Linked DNA regions of Homo sapiens: region 2 is linked to region 1. Evidence: fine-mapped expression QTL. A gene starts in region 1. The other region holds a variant in brackets. All regions are shown on one strand. Distances are from middle to middle.

The links.
Region 2: its variant is fine-mapped to the expression of TMEM163 in whole blood (TOPMed, PIP above 0.99).

What each region holds. Positions count from the first base shown.
Region 1 is chr2:134,716,380-134,721,753 of GRCh38, forward strand. TMEM163 (transmembrane protein 163) reads right to left here and starts at 2,621. Exons shown (of 8, transcript NM_030923.5): 1 at 2,355-2,621. The coding sequence starts at 2,556. LOC105373629 (a long non-coding RNA gene) reads left to right here and starts at 1,733. Exons shown (of 2, transcript XR_923354.4): 1 at 1,733-2,188. RefSeq lists a silencer at 2,705-2,944 and an enhancer at 4,647-5,374.
Region 2 is chr2:134,674,763-134,680,136 of GRCh38, forward strand. All of the region lies in intron 2 of TMEM163 (transmembrane protein 163), which reads right to left. Among named protein-coding and RNA genes, the nearest start is that of TMEM163, 42 kb to the right of the region's middle. The variant C/T (reference allele first, on the strand shown) is at 3,056.

The DNA of each region.
Region 1 (5,374 bases):
ATTTCTAAGGCGCAAATGCCTCCAAAGTCTCAAAACACTAGATTTTAAAGCAAACCTTTGATGAGAGTTAACTGTGGTCTGGAACCACATCCTGATAGCTCCAAAGGGAGTTAGGACAAAAGAGAATGCCAAATACAGGTGCAGATCCGAGGTACCCCTCAACCCCTCTACAGACAGCCTATAGGTATTTAGGCCTGAAAGAAAGCAAGCCAGGCAGGATGCAGAGACACACGGCAGGCAAGTGCTGGGGCTTCCTCCTCCCCAATTCCTCTCACCAGCAGGAAAGAGGTAGCTGCACTCAACCCATTCCCAAAGGATATAAAAATCAATATTGGAAAAATGCAGCCCCATAAGAAAAAAAATAACAGAAACAACAAACACAAAATCTTACAGTAAACCTCCCCAGGTAACGTTCTCGTTTACTTAACAAAAATCACTTATTCACCACATACTGGTTGCCATCAGGAAGAGGTCAAACAAAAGAATGTCACATTGACGTTCAGCTCTCAATGCCACACAGCACCGGGTTCTTTGGCGAATAGGGTTCATCCTAACAGAGAGGCTGTGTGTGATATGCCACGCTCTCAAACAGTGACAGTTTACGAACAGTCAATGCTTTCATGCTATCATATAATGGAAAATGAAATTCCGTTGACCAGAGAAAAATAACCTTAAGAATGAATTCAGAAGGGCTTTTTACACTTGAACATGAACTACAAAATGATGCTAAATATGAACTCACCCTAGCACTGTCTTCCCTCCTATCATTTTGTGGGGTAGGGAGAAACAGGCCAGCTCTTAGAGATGACCTGCAATGCTACAAAAATAAGCTCAACCCAGGCTTCTGTCTTTCTTCAATATGGAATTTTTAAATCCTACGATATTAGCTGGAGAGGGGCAAAGGTAATGAACACATCCTATAATAAAAGTGAGAGGTTTTGTTCCATGCTCGTGATGTCCCCTGTCCTCACCTCTTAAATGGCATCTAGTTATGTGAGAACAGGGGGAGAAACTGCAACAGAGGTGCAGAATTCGTTGCCACTGGAGCAGCTCCAGTTCTCGCTGAGCATCTAGGCGGATTCTCTGGGAACTGCCGTTTCCATGTCATTTTATTTCACATGCTACAGTTTAGAATTTCTAAGGAGAAAGAGATCGTGCATCCGAACACTAAACCGGAATAAAAATGTACAGGAGATACTAAGAATAGGACAGAAACCTGCTAAGTCTAAAATATATAAACCCGCCATAGCCAACAAAATAAGGCTTCCAAGAAAAGGGGGTGGAGGTGCAAAAGAGCCGGCTTCCCCTAAAGGGCCTGGCTGCAAGAATCCCTCTTTGGCCACTAAACGGTTTTAGCAGAACCACAGATTCGTTCTGAGGGGGACAATTTGGATTCGGATTCAGCAAGAAGTAGAAAAGGTGCAGACGCGGCCAAGAACAGGGCTCCCTCTGCAAAGAATCCAAGCCCAAAGGAAACGCGGAAGGGATGGAGAAGAGAGACGCGGGAACGAGCAGGGAGTCTCTCCCGTCCTACACTGGCGACTCAAGGGGGCATCGGCAGTCGGTGGGAGGCAGAGTGTGGTCTCCCAGCAGAGGCAAGTGTGCTGACCTCCAGGCCAGTGTCAGTGGAGGGGAGCTCTGAAGGGTCTGCAGACGCGCCCTCCGGAAACATCAGGTTTCAGTGGCATCCATCCAGATGAGGTTGGTGGCCCAAATCCAAATGTCCCATTCCTCTGCCCCATCATGAGACGACGGGGCAGGGACCCACTGTGACCCGCGTCCGCGATTAGAATCGGGGACTGCCCGAGACCAGAGGCCGCCCGAGTCCCGGCTCGCTCCCCTCCTTGCGCCCTTCGCCGGGGCGGGCAGCCGGGCGGCCGCCGAGGGACATCTCGCGGCTACACCCGCAGAGGGAAGTTCTCCCAGGCAGCCGGCGGAGCCGCAGGGGACTACGGAAAGGAGGATGCAACGAGCCTGGGTCCCTCCGAGCTGAGTAGGGCCCGGAGTGGCCCAGAAGCGCTCGACTCCGAACGCAAAAAATGCCTCCCGCAAACTTTTCCCGTGGGCGCCGGAGGGCCTGGAGCTGGCGGAGAGGAGGGCGCGAGTCCAGGCGGGGTCGGCCTGAAGGCAGCTGGGGTCTGGGCTTCGAGGGAAGGAACCGCAGCCGAGGCGGTGCCGGCCGCAGAAGGTGGGGCTGCCGCTCTCGGCTAGCGGCGTTCTCGCCGGGAAGTCGGGGCTCCGCGCCCCCGCGCGCTCCGAGCCCCGCGCCTCGCCCAGCGCGGCCCGCGAGTGGGGAGAGGCGGGCCCCGAGCAGCCACCCCGGTCGCCGGCCGGGTCGGGCAGCTCGCGCTCACCTCGGTCCTCCAGCCCGTCGCTGAACTGGCCGCTCTCGCTGATCCGCACCTGCCGCTCCTCCTCCAGCTGGGGCGGCTCGCGCACCGGGGAGCTCAGCGGGGCCGGGCCGGGGGCGGCAGCCGGTGGCGCGTGGCCCCGGGGCGGCGGCGGGACGGTGGGCCCCTGGGAGCTGCGGCGCTGGATGCCCGCGGCCGGCTCCATGGCGCGGGGCTGCGGATCCCGGCGGCGGCGACGACAAGCGCGGCGGGGACTCGAGTCAGAAGTGCGAGGCGCCGCGGCTCTGGCGGGGGCAGGAGCGGACGGACTGGCCGCGTGGACAGGGAGGGAGGGCGGGCGGGCGCCGCGGAGTGGAGGTGCACGGGCGGGGGCGGGGACGAGCGGAGAGCCGCTCGGCTCCGCGGCCGGTGGCGGAGGCTGGGGCCGCGTTGTTGCCGCCGCGCTCCGCCCCTGGGGGCAGGTGCGGGCGGCAGGGACCCGCCCCAAGGCCCGGGCGCGGGAGCCGGCGCACCGAGGCGGACGAGAGGGAGGAACCAGCGTGAGGACCCACAGGCGGCCCTGGCAGAGCTTGGCTAGGGCGTAGCGGGGACCCGCCCCACCTGCGCCGCGGGATGGTGCCCAGAGGGGACCCCTCCCACTGGATTCCTCTGGGGTCCGCGAAGCCCGCGGCCGCGCGTGGGTAGCAGACAGCGCCCCTAATTTGGCATCTTTCTCTTCTGGAGCTGCACAGGCTTCAGAGGCTGTACAGGGTCTTCGCCTGGGCCTCCATTCTCACTGCTCATCCAGGGAAAAAGGGTTCATCTGTCCCCAAGCCCGTCGCTCTCCGTCCTTCTCGGAGCTTTAACTCCCCTCCCAGTTTCTCCCTGGAGCACCCATTTAGCCAGGGATGGGGTATCTTTAGGACAGCGGGCGCTATAGAAGATGCTTGAACTCCGAGGCTTCCCCATTTCGACTCTTCCTGGGCCTTTGTCCCATACAGTTCGCTCCCCTGCTCATCTAAGTCTTGTGTGATCTTCAGAAATCCATGGAAGCCTCCCTTCTACGAGAAGTCTCCCCTACTCTGACCCCTGCAGCTCTTAATTCATTTTGTGCGGTGGGGCTGATCTCACCAGTGAGAGTCCACCGCAGGGCACACGCCAGCTCTCTTGATGCCCAGAGAGGAGCAAAAGAGGACCTGCTGTTTAATAAATTCAGCTTGGATTTGTTGAGGCTCAGAAAAGTATACCCCAACGTATGGCACTTTGGTATGCTAAGTTTGAACTAAAAAACTAAACAGGCCTCTGAAGCCGCCTTAGAAACAAAGTCTGTCTCCCCCCCGACTTTCTCCCCACTAAGCAGTTCACAGAAACCAGAATTCCTCTTCCCTACGGTGGTCATACAACCTAGAAATAGTACTCCAACCTCCCTGGTCCTCTGCCTTTCTGTGTAGGAGCTGGCCATGAAGAAATACTCAGACCTACCTTGTCTGATAGTAGATCCTGAGACCCTCATTCCAGAAGAGGTCCTGCTCTATACATGCTGCACAGAGAGGCCAAGAAGAATCTGAACAGGCCTCGCTGGGTTCAACCCTCAGTCTATTACCATTAGATCACACCCTTTGTCCAATCACATTTCTATAAGGCTGTCCATTCTTCACTGAATCTAAGCATAAAAACAGGCAGTTTTCCCTGAGTCTTTGCATCTTCATTTCTGAAGGCTCCTGTATCACATAAAACTTTGATTCAATAAATTTGTTACGCTTTTCTCTTATTAGCCTATCTTTTGTTATAAGCATGTTTGCCGTGCCCCTTATGATGGGGAGGAAAGTATCACACCTTTTCTGCCCCTACCGTTTCAATGGTATCAACATCCAAGCTCTAGAGTCCGGCTTTCGTCTTTAGATTGATTCAGTCTCTGAATTTAATCCGGGTACTCCAAAATGTCAATTCCTCATTTAAAGGAGTCCTCCTCGTTTCTTGAAGAGTCACCCTTTTCCTTTTTCTTGTCTGCTTTGCTTGTGATTGAAATGAGAGTAGGATTTAAATGCCTTTGTGGTGCACTGGAAATATCACCAGAAATGGGGAGAGGGGTCTTACTTTATTTTGTTGCTGCTGTTATTATTGTTGTTGCTGGATTGGAATGAGAAGATCTGAGTTGACCTTGACCAACTTACTTTACCTTGTTGACCACTAATTTCTTCAACTACAAATTGAAAGAGTTGAACTACGTCATTTCAAAGATCCCTTCCTGCTGCAAAGAAAAAGAAAAATGCTATGATTACTTGGATAAAGACAATGAAAATCTCTACCCATTAATCCTGGTTCTATCCTCTAAGGTAGAACATCCTTCAGATATATTTGCAGAGTCATCTCCTCCACTTTTTTCCTCCAGTCTATCCCATTTAATCCCCCTGTCAATGGCTCTCAAAGTATCACCTGGGGAGTCTAAGAACAAAAATACCGAAGCTTCGACTGCTAGAGATTCTGATATCATATTTAACGTGATCGTTCTTGGCTGGGACCTTGGCATGGGTATTTTGTAAGGCACTTCCCCATTCTAAGAGTCATCTGGGGGCTTAAAAAAAATTGGCTGGGCGTGGTGGCTCACGCTTGTAATCCCAGCACTTTGGGAGGCCAAGGTGGGCAGATCACAAGGTCAGGAGATCGAGACCATCCTGGCTAACATGGTGAAACCCCGTCTCTACTAAAAATACAGAAAATTAGCCGGGCGTGGTGGCAGGTGCCTGTAGTCCCGGCTACTCAGGAGGCTGAGGCAGGAGAATGGCATGAACCCAGGAGGCGGAGCTTGCAGTGAGCTGAGATCATGCCACTGCACTCCAGCCTGGGCGACAGAGCGAGACTCCATCTCAAAAAAAAAAAATTATTCCTCCCTGGCTCTCTGAGATTCTGGTTCAATAGATCTGGGATCTGGCTGGGAACCTTCCTTTAAACCCCTCTTGCCCCCCGGCCTCCAACACACATTCTGATGTCAATTATTCTGCAACCACCCTTTATGATTACTCTCCACAATATGGACCATCTAG
Region 2 (5,374 bases), 42 kb before region 1:
ACTGCAAAAACCACAATCTTGCGCAAAGGCCCTCACAACCTTACATTAAAAATACCTCTGCAAGGACATCTACCCAGCAACTGCCTATCCAACCTCAGACTGGCACTACCCTTGTTATTGATCTTTGTAGCCAAAGCTACTTATCTCAAAACAATTATGTCACCCTCTTCATGTTCCTTTAAAAAACCTTTGTGTTCCTTCACCTCCCTGAATACGTACATAATTTGCTATGGCAAGTGTACTCCCATGGCAAAGCTCATTTCCGAGTAAATATCTTTTTCATTTAGAGAGCCTCTCTCTCTGTTTCTTATTCAGGTTGACAGGATTAAGCATCACTTTTACTTTTTATGTACTGATTGAATTTTACAATATGTATTATCGAAAAGAAACACATGAATGTTTCCATTTTGGGGAAGGATCCATTCTCAGGAAAGTTTCCTGTTAAAATTTCATTTTGATCATTACAGAAGGAAAAAATACACACCAAATATTAGTAAACTATAATAAAACACTCAGATCATGCAGTGACTTTTCCTTTTAATAAAAAATAATCAACAAGTGAAAGAAATCTAAACCATGTAGGCATAAGGAGAATTTATATCTGGGTTTAAACTTTAGCCACTTGTATCGCCTGAGGTTTTTCAAAACCTTTATTATTTCCACAATTTCCAGTGTGCCTGACCATCTAATGACTAATCTCACTCAGAGATGTTGACAAAGTAACACACGGGAACAGCAGTAAGATATGTGGCAATGATTTCTCAAGGGACCGATATGCTCAGCTCATAATATGAGAAGGATATGAATAATTCAGATATTCCCTGTCTGAAAAAAAAATGACTTTTAGATATCTAAGCCTAAATCAGATTGAATAAATTAAAGAAGATGAATAAGAAGTAAGGTGGATTCTGTTGCTTAGCTTCACAAGTTACTGTTGCAAATTTCATCCAGAGCTCCCAACAGGGCAGCCTCCAGTGAAACAGCAGCACTAATGAACAAATCCGGTCCCAGGATTTAGGAATCAAATTTTTCTTTCTCAAAAGCAGAAAGGCCATGCAAAAGCAATCACTGATGATTAGCAGACTATCCACAGAGCATAACTCCCCCAAAACAGGAGGCCCTTCAGGTCAGCACCCCAACCCTAAATAGACATGTTAGCTAGCCAGATGCTTCCTGGTGGAGGGAATGTGAGCCTAGCAGATTTCACAGTCAGCCCTCCTGAGCACCCCACCCCACATCAAGACAGTTCTCCTAAGCTCAGCTCTTAATTCAATTGCCTGGAGTAAAACTGACCTGCGACATAAGGTACAACAGAATGGGGCCAGTGGCATGATGGTCAATGTTTCACTGGCTCTCTGGGAGGAAAAAAGGCCCCGACTTGCAGCATTTGCCAATTTCTATGGTGTAAATACACTCTCCCCATTGCCAATTTCAAGCTACCAACTTGACGTCAATTAGCTTGCAAAATACTGAAAATGTAACCATCAGCTCTTGTGAGCCAGCCCACTCCAGTGCACTATTGAGTAGCCCTCCATCCTTTCTCAGAAATATAAAAAATAATCTTCAGAGGCCTGAATCTCCACTCATTCCTATGGGTAAAGTGTTGTTTCTTACATGTCTGTTCTCTCTTTAAGGGACATGCCCTTCCAATGGGTGATACACTGGCTGCATTGTTTAGTACTGCAGTAGATATAGATATATATATAAATATTCATATTTTTTAACATCTTTATTGATATACAATTTATGAACCATACAATTCACTGATTTCCAGTGTACAATTCAATGGTTTTTAGTGTATTCAGAACTGTACAACCATCAGCAGACTTAATTTTAGAACATTTTCATCACTCCTCTGCCCCAAAACATTCTTCTTGTCCTTGGAAGTCCTTGGAAGTGACCTCTCACGGTCCCTCAACAGCCCCAGTCCTAGGCGATCATTAGTCTACTTTCTGCCTCTATACATTTACCTATTCTGGATATTTCACATAAATAGAATCAAGACTTCACATAAATGGAATCAATATCATACAATATCATACATATACATCTAAACATAAAAATATTTGAGACGAACAGACCTTAATGGATAAGCACCATAGGAGCCAGTGCTAAATGAGAAAATTAACTACCCTCATGATTATCTTGTAGAACCAACTGATAAACCACCATAAATAGGGCAGGAAAAAAATACAAGAGTCTGTACTGATGCTTTCTGTCAGCAGCTTTTCTTCTACAGTTCTCTGCAGAAGACATTTTAACCAGATGCAGCCCACCCGAGAGAGAGAGATAAAACACTATGAAAATGTCCACACTCCCTGAGTGTAACTTGTGATGCTCCAAATCAAAGCAGGTCAGCTTCCGGCGACCCTGCTCTTCTCGCTTCCTTCCGCAGACCTCGTGGCTTTGGCGTGCAGAGAATTATGGCTTTGAAGAGGTTTCAGACCCTCACGTTGGGACGGAGGCTGCAGAGCAGTGAGGCCCGCTGGCCTGCGACATGGAGCTATTTTTAAAGGCGTCTCTGAAGTGTCAGCAACTGATCTTGCCAGACCCCCTCCCTCAGAACCAAATCCCACTCCTTATAAGAGAAAGACTACAGAAAAAAGCTTATGCAATCCACACACGAAAAGGCATGGAGAAGACAAAAATAAAAGTGGCAGTGGCCTTTTGAATCATAAAGAAACTACTGGCTTTCAATATAGTTGGATTTTTTTTAAGCCAAGCCATGTATTGCTTTTATAAGCAAAAGAAAAAAGTTAAATTCCTCTTGCGGGGAGCAGGGGGAAGGTACTTTCTGTCTCTGAAAAGTCTTTTTGTAATAAAGTCACCCAAGACCAGCAGTGTATAAAAACTCTATCTATAATATGACCATAGCTATACGTTTCTTAAAATGGATTAAGATTGTAGGAATGAACAAAAAATATTAAAATGGCTGTCCCTGAGATACAGAAGAGTAGAGGATTATTTCCCATTTTTTCCAAAATGATGTGTTACTTCTATAATATTATTTTGTAGTAATTAACTCTGTAATCTTTGTCTTCTTAAATAAATGTAC[C/T]CCTGTGTCAACAGTTCCTAATGAAATGGGCAGCAGTTCTTCCAATGTCATTGGATACATAGGACCGACCTAATGAGGCCATGAGTTCTCCACATACAGTTTGACAGTAAGGAGAGACTCTGGCCAGGAGACACCCCTCCACGTTCCAGTAAGCCCACCCGCAGCCAAGCACAAAAAACGAAGGCGTGCCAGCAATGCCCAACACAACCTGCAGTGCACTCTTTGTCCTGGTTTCTTTCCGGTCTCAGGGAAGCAGATCGACCCTAGCTAATTGATTCTGCTGCTTCTGCTCCAGAACGTCCATTTTCCTGGACTGCACTGGGCTATTTAAAGTCGTTTTTATCACATCTGCTCCATTTCTGAGTCCAGCTGCAAACACCCACGGGTAAAGGGAGCCACAGAGTGACTGCAGGAACTCCGAGGCTTTACATCCGAGGGGTGCGAGCGCCAGGACAGGGAGCAATCTCACTGTGTAAATCCAGGCAGATGGCTGTTGAGCCTCAAGGTCAAAGCAGTGGCAGTACGCCCTGTCTCATTCTCAAGCCCGTGGAAACACGTGAATCTGTTATTCTCATTGGCTGCCTTTTCAGACTTTAGGGTTGCAAATGGTCTCAGAAAAGAAAAACAGGAAAAGGCTTTTGTCTTTCTGTAAATAAAATACAATTGTAGGGACTTTCCCAGTTTACATATAAATCCTCCCACCAGGATGAGGAAAGGACTGTGCCATCTCCACCTTCTCCTTCCACATATCCGCTGAGAGGGAGGCTGAAGGTCAGAGCAGAGGCCCTGGAATCTTCAGACCTGGGCTCAAGGCCCGTCTCTGCTACTCATAAGCTGTGTCAGCCTGGGGAGTCCTTTCCCATTCCCCAGGTCGACTGGGCTGCAAGTACCAAAAGCAATAGCAAGCCCTGGCACATTTGTATTATTTTTCCAAGCACAAAGCAGGTGATCAATAAATGTCTGCAGAATAAATTAATCATCTCAAGTTATTGGTTTTTCATTGCTTTAAAATTTGAATTTTTATAAAGCTATTTTGTTCTAACTTCAAGTGGATAAGCTACACTTTAATGAGGCTCCTGTATGTGAGAACAGCTATTAATTCAACTGCTGAATGTCAGTCTTTCACCAAGCAGAAAATCTCTTCCAATATCTACCTATGTGTATGAAAATAATGGATTTGTCCACAGAGGTGACAATCAACATATTTAACAACGAGCAGAGCTCTGGCCCCTGTCAGGCATAAGGCACAGTGTCTGTCCCTGGCCTAGGGAAGGTCCCAGAGACCAGGCCAGGCCTCAGCCCTTTCAGCTGCTGGCTGATAGGGACATCCAGAGGATCTGGGGTGGGGGACACAAGGATGGAGGTAAGGGGCTTGGGCAGTGGCTGATTACCAAGTGGTGTTTTAACAATCAGCGGAGCCATGCTGGGGCGCACTCACTGAACAGCAGCCCTGCGGTTCATGAATATGTGTACATGACTATACATATATGTCTGGCCTCATGTGTTTGTTCCATGACTCTAGGACAAACTCATGCACGTTACATCATGCATCATAAGATCAGGAAAGATTTCCTTCCATGAAAACAAGACTGGCATTTCAAGTAGGTGACAGATATATGTCATGGCCTTGCCTAGGCCACCCACTTCAATCATTTTCACACCTGCCTGGCCCCTGTGAGAATTTACACTTAGAACAATTCACCAGAGTGATAGAAGTGAGCGACGCAGTGCTCTGGGTTGGAAGGAAGAGCACTTTGTAAGTAAGTGCTTGCAAAAAGGTAAGATGCATTCAGGAGCTTCCCAGGAGCTTTCGAAGACATTTTATTTGATTCTTACACCTAATCCTGGAAAGGACTTAAGATAGGGATAACTAAACCCATTCTACAAATGACCAAAGAGACGCAGAGATACTCAATCTTACACAAGGTAACAAAGCTAGTAAGAGGTGCCCTGCCTAGAAACATCCCAGACCTTCGTCGCCAGCTCCCACCACCACCCCACAGCTGAATTATGGGGAAGTGATGAGCTCACCCACAAGGTCCCCGCCCACCCTGCCCAGATACTCAGCCATGACTTCCTTCTCTAACCACACCGGCTTCCCCAGCAACCCTAATGGCTCCACCCTATACCTGCCAGAATAAACGTACTTTAAGTTGTTCTGTAAGTGCTAATTCCAACAAAAATACCAAGGAATCCAGGCATACAGAAGGCTCAGAAAATACAGGCAACCTGAGTTTCCATGGCTCTGGGCCAGGTGGCATGATGGCTGAGAAAGTCAGGCTGCTAAGGCAAGACCCTGACTGTTCAGAAGCCTGTTAA